Linked DNA regions of Homo sapiens: region 2 is linked to region 1. A link means that fine-mapping ties the variant in region 1 to the plasma level of a protein whose gene starts in the linked region. Region 1 holds a variant in brackets. A gene starts in the other region. All regions are shown on their forward strands. Region 1 holds the start of LOC105375070 (a long non-coding RNA gene). Region 2 holds the start of CD300LG (CD300 molecule like family member g).

Evidence for each region. A credible set is the group of variants that fine-mapping cannot tell apart. PIP is the chance, under the fine-mapping model, that this variant and not a neighbour inherited with it causes the effect. Protein levels are from antibody-based Olink assays in UK Biobank. Linkage for the fine-mapping came from a reference panel and not from the study's own genotypes, which makes the PIPs less certain.
Region 2: CD300LG starts here. The variant in region 1 is the best candidate, but not a certain one, in a credible set for the plasma level of the CD300LG protein (UK Biobank, PIP 0.55).

What each region holds. Positions count from the first base shown.
Region 1 is chr6:43,788,852-43,797,177 of GRCh38, forward strand. LOC105375070 (a long non-coding RNA gene) reads left to right here and starts at 8,308. Exons shown (of 3, transcript XR_007059588.1): 1 at 8,308-8,326. The variant C/G (reference allele first, on the strand shown) is at 3,739.
Region 2 is chr17:43,845,502-43,853,782 of GRCh38, forward strand. CD300LG (CD300 molecule like family member g) reads left to right here and starts at 1,675. Exons shown (of 7, transcript NM_145273.4): 1 at 1,675-1,758; 2 at 3,057-3,392; 3 at 7,411-7,512. The coding sequence starts at 1,716. It overlaps LOC107984979 (a long non-coding RNA gene), which reads left to right. Exons shown (of 3, transcript XR_001753057.2): 3 at 763-974. LOC107985077 (a long non-coding RNA gene) reads right to left here. Exons shown (of 2, transcript XR_001752896.2): 2 at 4,249-4,800.

The DNA of each region.
Region 1 (8,326 bases):
TCGAAAGCTATAAAAAGGTAAAATTAATTTTAATAATTTATTTTAGCTCCAACATATCTAGAATATCACTTCAGGATCTAATCAATGGAAACATTATTAATGAGTTTTTTTTTTTTTTTTTTTTTTTTTTTTTTTTTTTTTGAGATGGAGTCTTGCTCTGTCACCCAGGCTGGAATGCAGTGGTGCAATCTTAGCTCACTGCAAGCTCTGCCTCCTGGGTTCAAGTGATTCTCCTGCCTGAACCTTCCGAGTAGCTGGGACTATGGGCGCACACAAACACGTCTGGCTAATTTTTGTATTTTTAGTAGAAATGGGGGTTTCACCATATTGGTCAGGCTGGTCTTGAACTCCTGACCTAAGATGATCCACCTGCCTCGGCCTCCCAAAGTGCTGGGATTACAGGCATGAGCCACTGCGCCCAGCCTATTAATGAGAAATTGTATACTCTTTTGGTACTAAGTCTTTGCGTCTGTCCAAGGGCAGAAATTGGGTGTAAAGAAAAAATAAATCTTTGAATCTGGTGGGTGTTTTATATTTATCGCATGTCTCAATTAGTTGTAGCCACGTTTCGAGTGCTTAATATACACATGGCTAGTGGCTACCATTTCAGACAGAATAGCTTTAAAATGTACTCCCCCCTTTGTTTGTCTCCCCCAACTAGAATGCAAGCTCCATGAAGGAAGAGATTTTTGTCTGTTTTGTTCAATGTATCTCCAGCTCCTGGAACACAGTACATGCTCAATAAACATTTGTTAAATGACTGACATTGTTGAAACTGAGGCCTGGACCTGAAGGTTTCATCCCAAGACTACGGAGGTGAGTACAGGATTTCTACAGAGGTGCCAGGAGTTGTTGGTGAGGGTTAGCTGGACAGGTGGGGACTTAAGTGGGGATTGTCTAGAAGAAGTGAACTCAAAGTCAGCTGGTAGGGATTACAGCAGAGGCCTCTTTGTCAGTGCCAGTACCGTCTCCTCTTAGCCACCCTGGGGATGGGGCTCATTATTATTGCTTGGCAGATGAGAAGCAGGAGGCTCAGAGAAGGTAAATAACTTGCCCGAATTTACACGCAGCCAGTAAATGGCCAAGCCAGAATTTAAACCAGCTTTTCTGACTCCAAATCTAGTGCTCTTTTTACCACACCACAGCTGCCTCAGGCTAGGGCAGGACATCAACAAATAAAAATGAATCGTCTAGACTCAATACAAACAGGGAAGAAGAAAAGTGGGACAGGGGGAGGATGTAGTGCTGGCCAAACCCAGGGCTGAAATCCAGACTTCCCCAAGTGTGGTAAGGCAAGGCAAGGCAAGCAAGAGATGTCTCCAGGGGCTGGGGCTCGTCAGTGGAAGATCGGAAACCTAAGCATGCAAGAGATTGCAACACACGGCCTTAGATGAGAGAAACAGCCTTGAAACAGACCACGGAGAAAAGAAGGAGAACATGAAAATGCCACCTCCCCCAGTTGTATAAGACCTGCCCAGATACCCCCCTGGAGCCATTCCCAAGGATCTCTCCAGACCTAAGCAAGTCCCAGGGCCTACCCTGCCTTCCCAGATCATCTCCTCTCTGTGGGACTCACACCGCCTGGTCTAGCCACTGTTTCCTCTGGAGCTACCCAGTGCTCCTTCTCCTCTGTCTAGCCTGAGACTCTCCCTTCTCCAAGGAGCTGCCCATCCTGCTCCCGGCCCTGAAAGGCCTTTAGAGAGCCTGCTGGCCCACTCTCCTCCCTCCCACAAGAACTGAAAGGCTGACGGGTGGATCCATACAAAACTTGGTGATTCTGGATCAATTTCGTGTGTTAGGATCATTGTGGTGGCCAGTGTGCAAACATGGCTGTCAACAGTTCTTTCCATCCCTGTGCCCACGTGCTTTGCCCCCCAAGAAGTAGAGTCTATTTTTCCTCTTTTTGAATCTGGGCCGGCTTTATGACTTGCTTTGAATAAAAATGCAACACAAGAGAGATATTCTGGGACTTTCAGGTCTAGGCATTGTAGTGTCAATTTTTGTCCTCTTGTAAGGCAGCTGCCAGGCTATAACTGTCCAAATACTCTACTGGAGAGAGAGACTGTGGAGAGACAGAGAGAGATAGGGGAAGAGAAACAGAGAGATAGAGGAAGAGAGAGACAGAGATGGAGAGAGAGAGAGAGGCTCAGCCAACTCCCAGCTGTTCCAACCACCTGAAGCTGAGGCACCAGACATGTGAGTGAAGTCACTTTGGATTCCCTAGCGCCAGGTGAGCCACTCTAGCCAACAACACATAAAGTAGAGAGAAGCCATCCCTGCCCCAGTTTAGTGAGTTGTAAGCAAATGTATGCACTGTGTTGTTTAAAGCTACTAAGTTTTGGGGTGGTTATTATTCCTCAATAATAACTGAGCCATCTAACAAAACAGTCATTTCCTTGGCATTAGGGTGTTTGTCCCTTCCCATCCATAAGGTTTAACTGGTATTCATGAAGTGGATGGAGGGATGTTCAAGGAAAGAAGGGTGTGTTTATAAGGGAATCAGAGACCAGGCATCTGCCATGGTGGTAAGTTTGGTGAGAAGTCAGGGTAAGGGCTGACCCAGGCAGGACAAAATATTGTCCTAATTTCTAGAGTGAGGAGAGTGACTTGGTTGTACTGGAGTCTTACCAAGAGAAAGTGGGCCTCACCTACAGCATGGGGGATAGAGGATAGAGGATGAGAAGAACTGCCAGAGAGCACAGCATGAGGGATTTGGAGGAAAAGACTGTGGAATCCTTTTCTTCCCTTCTTCCTTCCATCCTCCAGCGTTTATGGAATACCAGCCATATGTACTATGCCCTGGTGCAGGGATGGTCTCTCATTTACTAGGAGGGGCTTTAGCATGAGCCAGCCTAGAGGTGGGGGATGGATGGGCTGACCCTTGGAAGGCTCCATCAGGTTGGCTTCAGAGTTGCTGGGAGAGAGATAATTCAGCTACATCCGCAGGACATTGTCCATTAGGACATGGGACTAGGGGAGGGCAGGGAAGGAATCAGTAAATATTTATAATCTGCCTAGAAAAGGAAAATGCAAGGCAAAGACAGGGCTTGACTGAGCATCTGCTGAGAAGGAACAGAAGGGGTGACGTGGAAGGGGAAGAGCTAGAACCCAGGGAGCAGTGAGTCAGAGGAAAGGGCCCACTAGGCACAGGTGCCTATGGTGCAAGGCTGGGCTTGAGTCTCCCAGGACAAGAGGGGGCCGGGATCTGACAAAGATTTTCAAAGGCTGCGTTTGCCTTTGGGGAGTTAGTCTCTCTATGAGGGAAGTGCAAGTACTGCTCCCAGGGAGCTCCCAGTCTCAAGGAGGATTGACATGGCCCTGGCCCTCAGGATGCTCCCGGTCCTTACAGAGTATCTAATCTGAGGGAGGAGACAGAGCTTCTGCCATCAGACATTTCTTTGGATACTAGTTTCGGGAAGGCACCACCCTGCCACCATTTGGCTGTTGCACTGTTCGGAGTCACCGGATGCTGGTACCCCATCCTTCCCTCCACTCTCGGTGCGCATTCACAATGCTCACAGGGCTTCTCTTGTGTTTGTCATCAGCCATGCGTGGCTCACCAGCCTGGGCCCTGATTTTCTCCACACATCCCCTGACGGTCCCTGGGTCTGGCTCCAAGTGGAGCAGATGCTAGCACATGTCCCTTTCCTGGGCTTCTCCTGTCTCCTCTCCTGGAGAGGCCTGAGAACCCTGTTCATCAGCTCCTCAGACTTCCTGCAGGAAGACTGTTCCCCTACT[C/G]CCTGTCTGTAGCTCATCCAGCTGTCCTGGGGCTGGAAGCTTCTGAGGAGGTGATGCCCTGTGAGGCCCGGCCATAGGGACCTCTCTTTGGATGCCTCTGCAGAGCCTAATCTGGGCCGCCCTAAGTCCCATCAAGACTTCTGACAGATCTAGATTGGAATCCTGGGTCTGCCACTGGAGAAATTACTTGCCTGCACCTCAACTTTCTCATCTAAAATGGGCACAGTAACACCTACATGATGGAGTTTGAGGGCCTGAAGTGACATTGACATGTAAAAGTACCTCATGAAGTGACTGGTACATAGGATGTCCTAAAAAAAAAAGTCATTATCATCTTGTTGTTATTCTAGTCTCCATGCCAATGCTTTTTCCTCTCTGAGTGCCCCCTTTAGTACATTTTGGTTGTTTGTGGGGCTTTTTTCCCACTTTTTAAAAAAACCTGAAATGGTCTGGCTGGATTTTATAACCATTTTTGCAAGCATGCATCCTTACTCTCCTGCTGAGGAGTGAGGCACGCCAGGGCAGGTTCAGCCCTGGAGCCCAGCAGTGAGAGAAAGGGATTGGACTGAAGGGAAAAGAGGGTGTGGAGAGCCCTTCCTGGTAGGGATGATGCCCTGTGGCTTTGAACCCAGGACCAGGTACAAGGTGGGCTTGCATGAGTATTTGTAGAATTAATGAACAAATGAACAGGAGCAGAATGCATGGCCAATCTTCTCTTAGGTCCCCCAAACACACTGGGAACCTCCAGTCTGATGGAGGAGGCCGGATGTCCACCCTTATACACACAGCTGTGCTCTGGGCAAGAAATGCTGAGGCTGGGCAGGGCTGCTTGGGCCAGGCTGCAGTGGACGGATGCCCCCAGGGCTGTCTTCAGAAGCTCCCTCAAGGTGGAAACCTGTCTGTTCCAGGATGTTTAGGTGAAATGATTTGTGGTATAGGTATGGAAGGGCCTCTGGGACCCAGGCAGGGGAGAAGCCCTTCCCTGGGACTTTGGAGAGCTGGGAGCTGCCATCTCCTGGGGAGGCCACAAGAGGATGTCTTCTGGGGAAATATTCAGGGAGGGTGTTTGCTTTTGGCTCCCAAAGGCATCTCCACCCCCACCCCAGGTCTCCCCTACTTCACTCCCCAGGGTTCCCTCCCAGCTGCTCTCCTGGCCAGCCTGAGATAGAGAGAGGATGGCAGGGCTTGCTGGGCCCCTGAGGCTGGGACTGGTGGGGAAGGTCTGGCCCCAGCAGATGCCCTCCTGAGGCGTCCTCGCTTCTGGAGCGAGACTCCTACTATAGATCTTCTTTCACACGGGTACATCCACACGGGCTCGCACACACACAAGTGTGACAGGGGTCACTATTGCCAGTCACGGGGCAGCCGCCTGGTTGGGTAAGGGTTCCTAGGGGCTGGGTGAGGCCCAGCTGGGGGAGCCAGCATCTCGGGACGAGCCCCCATGGGGCTGGGGGTTGGGGGCTGACCTGGCTGCGGTCCCATGACCCAGAGCTGCCCTCTGGGAACTGCTGACTGTTCAGCAATAAACACCTCATGGCTATTAATAGTCTTCTGTGTGGCAGCCCAGAATTGATAACACTGGGTCACTTCTGGCCTGGCCCAGCCTGACTGCCTGGGTTCAAATCCTGGCTGCAATTTCTGAGCCCCGAGGTCCAAAACCCAAACCCCAAACACAGCCCCAGCTCCGACAGCTTCTCAGCTATGTTTAGGACAATTACCTTTCTGCATCTCACTTGCCATCTCTGAAACAGGCACCATGATATCTATTTCACAGTGTTTCGTGTACATATGATCATGTCATCCTCCCCACACCAGACATTGGCAGTAGTGTCCCCATACTAGAGCTGAGAGTGCTGGTGCTCAGGGAAATGCAGATGGTTATAGGAGGATGACTGGCATGCAATAAGGGCCCGATAAAGGTTAGCTATTGTCGTCGTGATTTGGCACAAGGATGTAGGAAGAGAGGATTTGAAATCGGACAGAGCTGAGCTCTACTTTTGACATCAGTAGAGTTTTCTAGCTCTGTGACCTTGGGCAAGTTGCTGGATCTCTCTGGGGCTCATTGTCTTGCTCTGTAAAATGGACATGGCAACACCTACCTCCCAGGTGTTGATGTGGATTATATTAGACAATGAACACACAGTGATTGCCACTTAAAAGGGAAGGAGGGAAGAAGAGACCTGGAGTGAGGGGAAGAGTTCAGCTGGATGCTGGTAAAACCCACCCCCAGTCCCCTCTTAAGGGGCTCAATAAATATGGTACTTGTAGAATGAATGAATAAATGAACATTAGTCACCTCACCCTGTCAGGGTCCCCAAGAGCAGGGACAAATTCTCTCTGATTAGCCCGTGTGCTCCCTGATGGTGAGGGTATGACCTTGGGCCTTCTCCCTTGGGGAGAAAGGGATCTACGGATCCCTTTAGATGAACCATCTAAAATGCCGAGCCTTTTTGGGGATGGTTCATTCTCTTGGTGTGGCAACAGCCAGTGCAGAAACCCACAAGGAAAAATGGAAACAACTTTTCCTTTCCTTCTCGTAATGAGGTGCAGGCAGGGCACAGGGCCCTAAGCCCTGGGCACAGAGTCTCAGGCCTACAATTAATCCCTTCCCAGGATGTGGCCCCAGGCTCGGCTCCTGGCTGCATCCCCAGCATTGCTCTGTGCCCCACTCCCCAAGTCCTAGTGCTTACCCCCCATTCTGGGGACTGGGGAAGGGTACATTTTGCTGGCAAAGATTATGGGAGCCCAGGGAATGCCTTCTTGTTGAGGCCAGCGGGGCTCATCCCCTTTCCTTGTGACTGTGGTGACCCCAGCCACACCCTTGACACTGCCTAAGTCTCTGGCAGCCATAGTAAAAACCCAAATGGTGGTGCTGGTGGTGGGTGGAGGGCACGCAGTGGGGAAAGGGGGCAGAAGAGACATGGGGGTGAGGGGAAGGGCTCAGCTCGATGCTGGTAAAACCCTCCTCCAGGCCCCATGACTTCGGAGAAACTGCCTCTCTCCCACCCCGGCCCCCAGATGCCAGTGGTGTGCCGGCCGTTGGCGTTTGCTTCACAGGAAGTGTCCCTGGAGTCTTGCTTATCTTGAATGGGTGGCTGCTGGGAGGGGGCAAAGGAAGCCATTTCTTCCCTCGCCCACCATTACATGTCCACTCCAAAGGCTATCTCTTGCATCCCAGACCATCCTCTCTCCCTCTCTGAAGGTGGGAAGGAGGTATCCATGATCTGAGGACTACCTTCTAGGGGATGGGGGGTCCCAGAGCCCCTCATCTCTGTCTCACCCTCACCCTGGGTCAATACCAGGTACCTGGACATGAAGCTCTTCCTCAGTTTCTCCTGCTGTCTGTTAGTCCTGCATGGGCCTCAGGCCTCTCTGGTCAGCTGGCCTTCTGGGTCTGAGGAGGGAAGATCCTAGAAGTAAGTTGTCAGATGCAGCAAATAAAAACACGAGGTGCCCCATTAAATTTTCATTGTTTGTGTGAAATTCAAATTTAACTGGGCATCCCGTACTTTGTCTGGCAACCCTGCCTGGATGGAGTGGCTGGACCTCCCTCTTGCGAGTTCTCAGTTGCTTTGCTGCTCCCCTTCCTCCTCCCCAGCCTTCTCACTGCTTTGCTGCTGAGGTATCCAGTGTAGACATTGTGTGTGGGCCCTCGTTCTGGATTTGTCCTCACTTTCTGCCTGCAGCAGAGATCTGAAACAAATTAGGAGCTCTCTGAGGGCACAGGCAGTGTCTCCCCCATCAGACTGGGAGCCTCCTTTGGATTGAGTCCATGTGACCTTGTAGCCAGGCCACTCCCCTTTCTCCTTTTCATCGTGCTCTGGAGGACCTGGCGCTGACCCTCAAGGCTGACCTTTTCCACAGGCTTAGCATAGCCTTCACTGCTGCTACCTGCAGAAGCTCTGAGAGAGCCTCAGTAAACATCCGTCTCCTCCTCCCTGATGACCTGCCGGTGGGAATTCTCTTCCCCAGTCCTCATTCTGCAGGCAGCTATCTCCGAGTCCCTCAGGCTCTGGAAACTTCCAGTGGAAACAATTCTCTGGGAGCCAAGACCCCAGAGCTCTGGCTGGGGCTCTGTCACCAACCAGCCCTGTGACCTCAGGCAGCTCTTGGTTGTTCTCTGGGCCTCAGTGTCCCTACCTGTACAATGGCACTATATCTAGCTTGCTGACCTTGGGGTAGGGTTTCCAAAATGCACATTGTGATCTATGTGGGTCATGAAGTCGATTTAACAGCATGCAACCAGCATGATTCTTTTTCTTAAATAGGAAGAGAATAGGGCAGAAAATATTTAGTCTTGCATAGAGTAAGGGTAAGTATTGTTTCTTGAAACTTGTGTGGAGTGTGTGTGTGTGTGTGTGTGTACATGCGTTCTGGGTCATGAGGTAGGATATATTTTTCAGGGGGGTTGTGGTAAAACAAAAAAGTAAGGAAGTCAGTACTGGAAGCTGTGACAGAAGGGTGACGGTGGCAACTGGAGACCCGGACGTGGTCTCTGCTACTTCTCCACGTCACGGAGATGACAGGCCCACTTACAACCTCCTGTCTGGGGTTCTTCCTTGCTCTCTTGAGTAGTCTTCCTGCCCTG
Region 2 (8,281 bases), not on the chromosome of region 1:
GGAGTGCAATGGTGTGATCTCAGCTCACCACAACCTCCACCTTCTGGGTTCAAGCGATTCTCCTGCCTCAGCCTCCCTGAGTAGCTGGGATTACAGGCATACACCACCATGCCTGGCTAATTTTATATTTTTAGTAGAGACTGGGTTTCTCCATGTTGGTCAGGCTGGTCTCAAACTCCCGACTTCAGGTGATCCACCCGCCTCAGCCTCCCAAAGTGCTGGGATGACAGGCGTGAGCCACCATGCTGGGCCATAAATATTTTTTAATCTGTGTTTTTTTAAAACTGCAAAAACAGATCACCTTTTGTAGTCTGTACATGTAAAAGAGAGTCAGGGGCTGAGATCATGGTAACAGTTTTCCCCACCGTGAACAGCTGGCCCTGCCCACTAAATGGCAGCAGTGCTTCGCAGTCATTGTGAAATTAAAACACTTCTCCCCACGTTACTAGACTCACACACACACAATCTTCCCTCCCAGAACCACTGAGTTAATGCTTCAGATATTAACCTGACAAGTCAGTAAAATTCCAACTGAACATTTGGAAGGATATATGCCAAAATATTAATGGTGCTTTTCTAAAGCAGAAGGGGAATTACAAGAAGCACTCCCTTTTTTCTTTCTTTCCTTTTTACGTTCTGTATTGTGTAAAATTTTGCTTACAACCTGTATGAACTTTGCAACCAAACCAAAAAAAAAGTCATTTTTGAAGCCAGTGTGTCAGAGCTCCCAGTAGTGTACATGTTTGTTTTGGTCCTTTCAAGGAGGATTCAAGTCTGCGATGGAGAAACCACCAATTCACTTTTTCAAATGCCAAAACAACTCCGCAGGCGTGGAGGAGACCTATCTTGCAGCGCTGTAGGCCCAAGGCACCAGGGAATCCGGTCCAGCTCAGCCCTACAGCTTTGCTCAGCCCCGTCTGCACCGCCGCCCCGTGGCCAAGGGCAGTACTGCGTCCTCCAAAAGGCAAGGGCGGAGGAGGGGCCAGGGGCCTTGCCCCAGGGGCAAGCTTCTTTCTGTCCCACTGACCACATGGCAGTCTGGTGAAGTTTATGGACCCCTCTCTCAGTATAATGGCGGGTAAATATATAAATAAAATATATATGCTGGAAAGAAAACTAATACTGGTGAGATGATTCTTAAAACTCTTTATAAATGTGTAATATAATAATAGCCGTTTCATTATTGTAAATAACCAGCTCTAGGGGCAGGTCTAGGAACTCATTGTTTTCCAAGCAGTGAGGGGTATACACGACGTTTCGAGATATCCACAACTTGATGTGCCAGTGTCTGTGATTGTAATTGGTAACAAAGTTGCAGGTACTGCTAACAGTACACTCTGAATAAGAGGAAAAGCTAAATATTAGAAGTTGATGAAAGTCAATATGTAACTTTTTCCCATGCGAATTCGACTTACAGACCCCTTAGGGCGCACGGACCACAGGTTAAGGCCCCCTTGAAGGGGCACGAGTTTAGGAGAAACTCTGGTGTGGGTTTTCAGTCCTGGAAGGTGAGCCCTGGGGTAGGCACGCGTGGGCGCTCAGAAAAGGGAAGGCAGAGGCGCCTCCCCGGCTGGGCCTGCGGAGGGATGACCCACACGCCCCTCCCCTCGCTTCCTTGGCCTGGTTTCACGCGACTAGAGAAAGTTAAAGACCCGTGTGACTGAAGAGGAGCTCACAGTTCCCAGCGTCTGCTCCCACGGTGTCCAGCGCCCAGAATGCGGCTTCTGGTCCTGCTATGGGGTTGCCTGCTGCTCCCAGGTGAGATGGGGAGAGGGTCTCGGGAGGGATGTGGGGCTCACCCTTGTGGTCTGCAGGGAAAGGACCTCTTGACTGACTGATAGCCCCACCCCACCTATCCTCAGCCTCCTCAGCCCTAGGGGAGCGGGGCGGGCTGGGGGTGGGGGGAGGTGGGGGTGGCGCCGGGGCCGCACTTGCTGTTTCTGGAACCTAGAGCCAGGTTTTCTCCAGACCTGTGGGTTTCCCCTCATGGCAATGTGGCTGTGAGAGTTGCTTTGCCTCTCTAATCTTAATTTTTCTACCCTGTGCCAAGCCTGGAGGCGGACAAGACACCCCATCTGGTTGCCCTGTTAAACTCAGCAAATATTTGTTGAATTTCGGCTATGCCTCTCCCCACAACCCTGAAAGATGAAGAATTATCACGTTTCATCAATTCTTTTGCTTTCTTTTTCTTTACCTTCTAACACTTAAAATCAGGATAAATCCTACAACTGATGTCAGTTGTTCAGTTGGCAATAGTGAGACCCCATCTCTACAAACAAACAAACAAACAAACAAACAAAATTAGCCAGGCATGGTGGTGCACACTTGTAGTCCTAGCTAGTGGGAGGCTAAGGTGGGAGGATCGCTTGAGCCCCAGAGGTCAAGGCTACAGTGAGCCATGAGCACCATTGCCCTCCAGCCTGGGCAACAGAGTGAGATCCTGTCTAAAAACAAAACAAAACCAGGCACGGTGGCTCACGCCTGTAATCCAAGCTCTTTGGGAGGCTGAGGCGGACGGATCACAAGGTCAGGAGATCAAGACCATCCTGGCTAACACGGTGAAACCCCGTCTCTACTAAAAATACAAAAAATTAGCCGGGCATGGCAGCACGTGGCTGTAGTCCCAGGTACTCAGGAGGCTGAGGCAGGAGAATCACCTGAACCCGGGAGGCAGAAGTTTCAGTGAGCAGACATCGGGCCACTGCACTCCAGCCTGGGCGGCAAAGTGAGACTCCATCTCAAAAACAAACAAACAAACAAACAAAACAAAACAAAACACTCAGAAACCCTGCTGGCTATCTGGCTGTCAGATTCTATCTGAATCTAGAACGCCACCCCTGCACCCCAATTCCTCAATGGGCCAGGGTTAGGGAAACAGCAACAGCCCTGCCCCAAGTTCCCCCAGCGTGGGAGGTTAGTAATGGCTCTTCCAAGGCTGTCCCCAGAAGGGATGACTGAGAAAAGCCTTCCTTCTTCCTCCTAAAATGGAAGCTCTGGCCTTGACCTTGGTACATGGAGCCTGGTTTTTCCAACCTCCACTCCTGCTCTGATTTTAGGTTATGAAGCCCTGGAGGGCCCAGAGGAAATCAGCGGGTTCGAAGGGGACACTGTGTCCCTGCAGTGCACCTACAGGGAAGAGCTGAGGGACCACCGGAAGTACTGGTGCAGGAAGGGTGGGATCCTCTTCTCTCGCTGCTCTGGCACCATCTATGCAGAAGAAGAAGGCCAGGAGACAATGAAGGGCAGGGTGTCCATCCGTGACAGCCGCCAGGAGCTCTCGCTCATTGTGACCCTGTGGAACCTCACCCTGCAAGACGCTGGGGAGTACTGGTGTGGGGTCGAAAAACGGGGCCCCGATGAGTCTTTACTGATCTCTCTGTTCGTCTTTCCAGGTAACAGATATCTCTCCTTCCCCAGGCTGGGGACAGGAGCTGCAGAGGGAAGAGGGAGGGGTGGTGGGGCATAATCCTGGTACCAACATTATGGGCACTGAGTCCTCAGGGAGATCATGCAGGTCAAGCACCGAGCAAGGCTTGGGGCACAGAAGGAGCCGCCTGAGTCTTGGCCATTGTCTCACTCTTGCTGCCCGAGGTCACACCAGTAGTAGATGTCAGAGCAGGACCGGACCCAGATCTGTCCAGGGCTGGGCTCGGCGCCTTTCCTTTCTGCCCAGGTGTGCTGGAGGGAGATTTCCATAGGCTGGGTACAAGATAGACATATCAGGGGATAAAGAAGACTCCTCGCCTGGTGTCAGAGATATTCCTGAGGCCTCCCGAGGCTGGGCCAACCATTGCTGCATTCCAGACCCAGCCCACAGCATCACCCTGGACATGCTGGCCTCGCCCTGCTTGTGCCCTCAACTCTCCCCTCCTGGCCTCCACCTCCCCAGATATTGAAGTCCAGCCACAGGTGCTAGAGTGCCTGGGAACCAGCCTCTGGGTAGGATGCCTGAAGGAGGGATCGTTAAATGCAGGGACACTAGGGGGCCGGGGCTGGAGCTATGGGGCCTGGGTAGGGGATAAAGCACCTCTCTGGGAGCCCAGAACCCCAAGTGGACCTGCTGAGCTAAGGAGAAAGAAGCCAGAGAGGGCCCAGGGGAGTGGGAGCCTTGGTCTGCTGGCCAGTGTGGGCGAGGTACATCTTTGTATCCCCATTTCACGGATGAGGGACTGAGGCTCCAAGAGACTAAGTGATTTGCCCAAGATCTCACAGCAGGAAGTGATGGAACTGGGATTCAAACACAAGTCGTTTCCAGCTTTGATGTCTGCTTTATTCCTCTCCTAGCCCCATAGCTGGGACCTATCCCAATCCCAGGCCCATCCCTACCACCATAGCCCCTATTTTTTTTTTATTCCTTTATCCATGGATCTTTAATTTGAGGAAATAAAGTTAAACTTGCCAAATAGCAGCAGCATCGAACCACATTGAATCTGTTCTTCATTATTTACAAGATTCTCTTATCTCTTCCAATTCTTATCAGTGTTCACATGTCATTTCTACCAGTTATGATCAAGTTCGCTTGTGTTTTAGGTTTACCCTCATTTGTAATTCTTTATTTGTGTATGACATGTGTATTGCTATATTATCGTCCTATATCGGACTCTATTGGCCTCTCTCTGATGGCAGTTGGGATGTTGAAAATGAAGAAGACTGACGACAGTGATGTGCTGGTAAATGTTTAACAGGCTGGGGATGCTGTCATTTTGTGGTGTTTTCCAATTTCTGTGGTGTCCATTTCTGTGGTCCAATTCCCATGGCCAATTTCCAGCCATCGACAGTTTAACACGATCTCACCAACTCCTGAAAAGTTAACAGTGAGCTCTTGTGAGTCAGTGCGAGCCATCTCCAGCACACCATTGAGTATGGTGAACCATGAGAAGAATTTCTAAGAAAGTCAGAAAAAGACAAATGTAGCCACTATCATTTCTTTTCTTTTTATTTATTTATTTTTATTCATTCATTCATTCATTCATTCATTCATTTTTCTGAGATGGGGTCTCACTCTGTCATCCAGACGGGAGTGCAGTGACACAATCTTGGCTCATTACAACCTCTGCCTCCCAGGCTCAAGTAATCCTCCTACCTCAGCCTCCAGAGTAGCTGGGACCACAGGCACAAGTCACTATGCCTGGCTACATTTTGGTTTTTTGTTTTTTTTTTAAGATGTGGTTTCGCCATATTGGCCTGTCTGGTCTCAAACTTCTGGACTCAAGCCATCTGCCTGCCTCAGCCTCTCAAAGTGCTGAGATTACTGGCAGAAGCCACTGTGCCCAGCCAGCCTACTATCATTTTCTTTTATTCATCTTTGCCTGAAGGCCCTAGGCAATGAAATATGCAAGATTAAGAAGTATAAGTCCCGGCATGGTGGCTCACGCCTGTAATCCCAGCACTTTGGGAGGTCAAGGCGGGTGGATCACGAGGTCAGGAGTTCAAGACCAGCCTGGCCAAAATGGTGAAACCCCGTCTCTACTAAAAATATAAAAATTAGCCGGGCATAGTGGCAGGTGCCTGTAATCCCAGCTACTCAGGAGGCTGAGGCAGAGAATTGCTTCAACCCGGGAGGCGGAGGTTGCAGTGAGCCAAGATCGTGCCACTGCACTCCAGCCTGGTCAACAGAGCCAGACTCAGTCTCAAAAAAAAAAAAAAAAAAAAAAAGAAGAAGAAGTATAAATGTTGGAAAGGAAAAGATAAATACTCTGTATTTGCAAAAGATTTGATCATCTACTTAGAAAAATCCAAGAATAAACTGACCTAGTGTTACAGATTGAGTATCCCTAATCCAAAAATGCAAAATACTCCAAAGTCCGAAACTTTTTGTGTGCCAGCATCACACACACAAAGGAAATGCTCACTGGGGCATTTTGGATTTCAGATTCCTGGATTAGGGATGCTGAATCGGCAGATATAATGCAAATATTCTGAAATCTGAAACACTTCTGTTCCCAAGCATTTTTGGATAGGGGATACTCAATCTGTAGAAGAGAAAGTGGTGGAGAAAGAGGGAGAGTCCAGGATGGCACACAGTCAGCAAGGACTGGGGAAGTGACAGATGGACTTGGGGAAGTGGGGACCGGAGTAGCTCCTGGGGAGTTGGTTGCATCAGGCTTCTGCCCACTGTGCTGGGCACAGAGGACAGGAATTTTTTTTTTTTTTTTTTTTTTTTTTGAGACGGAGTCTCGCTCTGTCGCCCAGGCTGGAGTGCAGTGGCGCGATCTCGGCTAATTTTTTGTATTTTTAGTAGAGACAGGGTTTCACGTGTTAGCCAGGATGGTCTCGATCTCCTGACCTTGTGAGCTGCCTGCCTTGGCCTCCCAAGAGGATAGGCATCTTGCCTTTAAGGAGTCTCAGCCTAGCAGGGAGACCCAGTACACAAGAAATTGCAGTGTAAGTGAGCATTAGCGCCACTGGAGGCACGCACAGGGGACTGTGAGTGCACAGAGGAAAAAGAGATTCGCTGCTTCCAGGGAAGACATTACAGAGGAGTTGACCTTGAGCTTGTGCTGAAGGACAGAAAGAAGTGCTTTAGGCAGAGATGGAAAGGAAAGGCATCGCACACAGAGGAACAGCATGTCCAAGGCACGGAGGTGGGCAGGAGGCTGGTTTAGTCGGGAATAGAGGATGACTCTATGGCTGGAGCACCGAACAGAGAAAGAGGCGAAGCTGACAAGGTGGTTCAAAGCCTCAAAGCCTGAGTTTTGTTCTTTGCTTTTTTTTTTTTTTAGAGACGAAGTTTTGCTGTTGTTGCCCAGGCTGGAGTGCAGTGGCGCAATCTTGGCTCACTGCAATCACCGCAACCTCTCCCTCCCGGGTTCAAGCAATTCTCCTGCCTCAGCCTCCCAAGTAGCTGGGATTACAGGCATGCTCCACCATACCCAGCTAATTTTGTATTTTTAGTAGAGAGGGGGTTTCACCGTGTTGGCCAGGCTGGTCTCGAACTCCTGACCTCACGTGATCCACCAGCCTTGGCCTCCCAAAATGCTGAGATTACAAGTGTGAGCCACCACACCCGGCCTGAAGCCTGAGTTTAAGAGGCCTCGAAAGGCATACTAAAAAGTTTGAACTTTGGCTTTTAGGCAATGGAGAGCCAGTGACTGTTCTAAGGCAGAGAGGGATGGGATCCAACACAGACTTTTGAGACAAAACTGGAGTAGTGTGAAGGGTGGCAGGGAAGAAGCAGGCTGAGAGGCAGGTGGGTTTGAGGCTCTGAGCTAGGCGCGAGGCCAGGGGGCTGCAGGAGTAGAAGACCAGGGATCTGCTGGAACCCGCCACGTGGCTCCTGGTTGGCCGAGGCGAAAGATGGCAGTGCTCTGTGCTGAGGTGGGGGGTAGGAAAACTGCCAGCTGCTCCCAAGGAAGGAAAAGGGGTTCAGAGCGGTGCCACCCCTGAGAGCAGCCTTTCCCTTTCCTCTAGGACCCTGCTGTCCTCCCTCCCCTTCTCCCACCTTCCAGCCTCTGGCTACAACACGCCTGCAGCCCAAGGCAAAAGCTCAGCAAACCCAGCCCCCAGGATTGAGTGAGTGAATGGCAATTCCGCCCCTTCCCTTGCCACCCTTCTTACAGAAGCAGCCAGTGAGTGCCTGCCTGGTACCAGACACAATAGTTTATGGCCACCTAGGTGTCCCCACAAGCCTGGGAGCTGGGTTGTCCAGCTGTGGAAGTGGAGGCTCAGCAGGGTTAGGTCACTTGCTCAGGGTCACACAAGAAGTGCCAGATCCCAGAAGTGGTCACAGCCTGACCCCAAAGCTCATATTCTGTCTGCGCCATCCAGAGTCTCGGGGGCAAGCCAGAAAGGCCAGGCCTTGGGCCCTGACCTCTGGACTCATCCTGCCACCCTGCCCTTCCTGGTCTCATGGCTGCAGAAGGAAGTCAAGGCCTTACTGAGGCACGGGTGGTTGGGGAGGGGGCACATGGTGGTGAGGGGAGGACCTGCCCTTCTGGTGAGGAAGGAGGTGACAATTGACTGGGACTGTAGGGGGAGGGCAGGAAGGTGTCCACTGAATGGTCACTGGAAAGGGTCATGGAAGCGGGGAAGGGGAGTGCTTATACCTCCTCACAGAGGCAACAAGCTGTGGGCACAGAAAGAGACTGAACATCATGCACAGCTGTGGGGTGTGCCTGATCTACGGTCTCCTTCCTCAAAGTGGCTTCATCTAGATCTGTTTGCTTACTGGGGTATCCTTTAGCTGGGGATGTTCCGAGAAACGGGTCCCAGGGAGGCTAGGGTTCAGGGGTCCAGGGTCAGAAGTCAGGGATGCTGGGATGCAAGGGTCAGGAAGGATGCT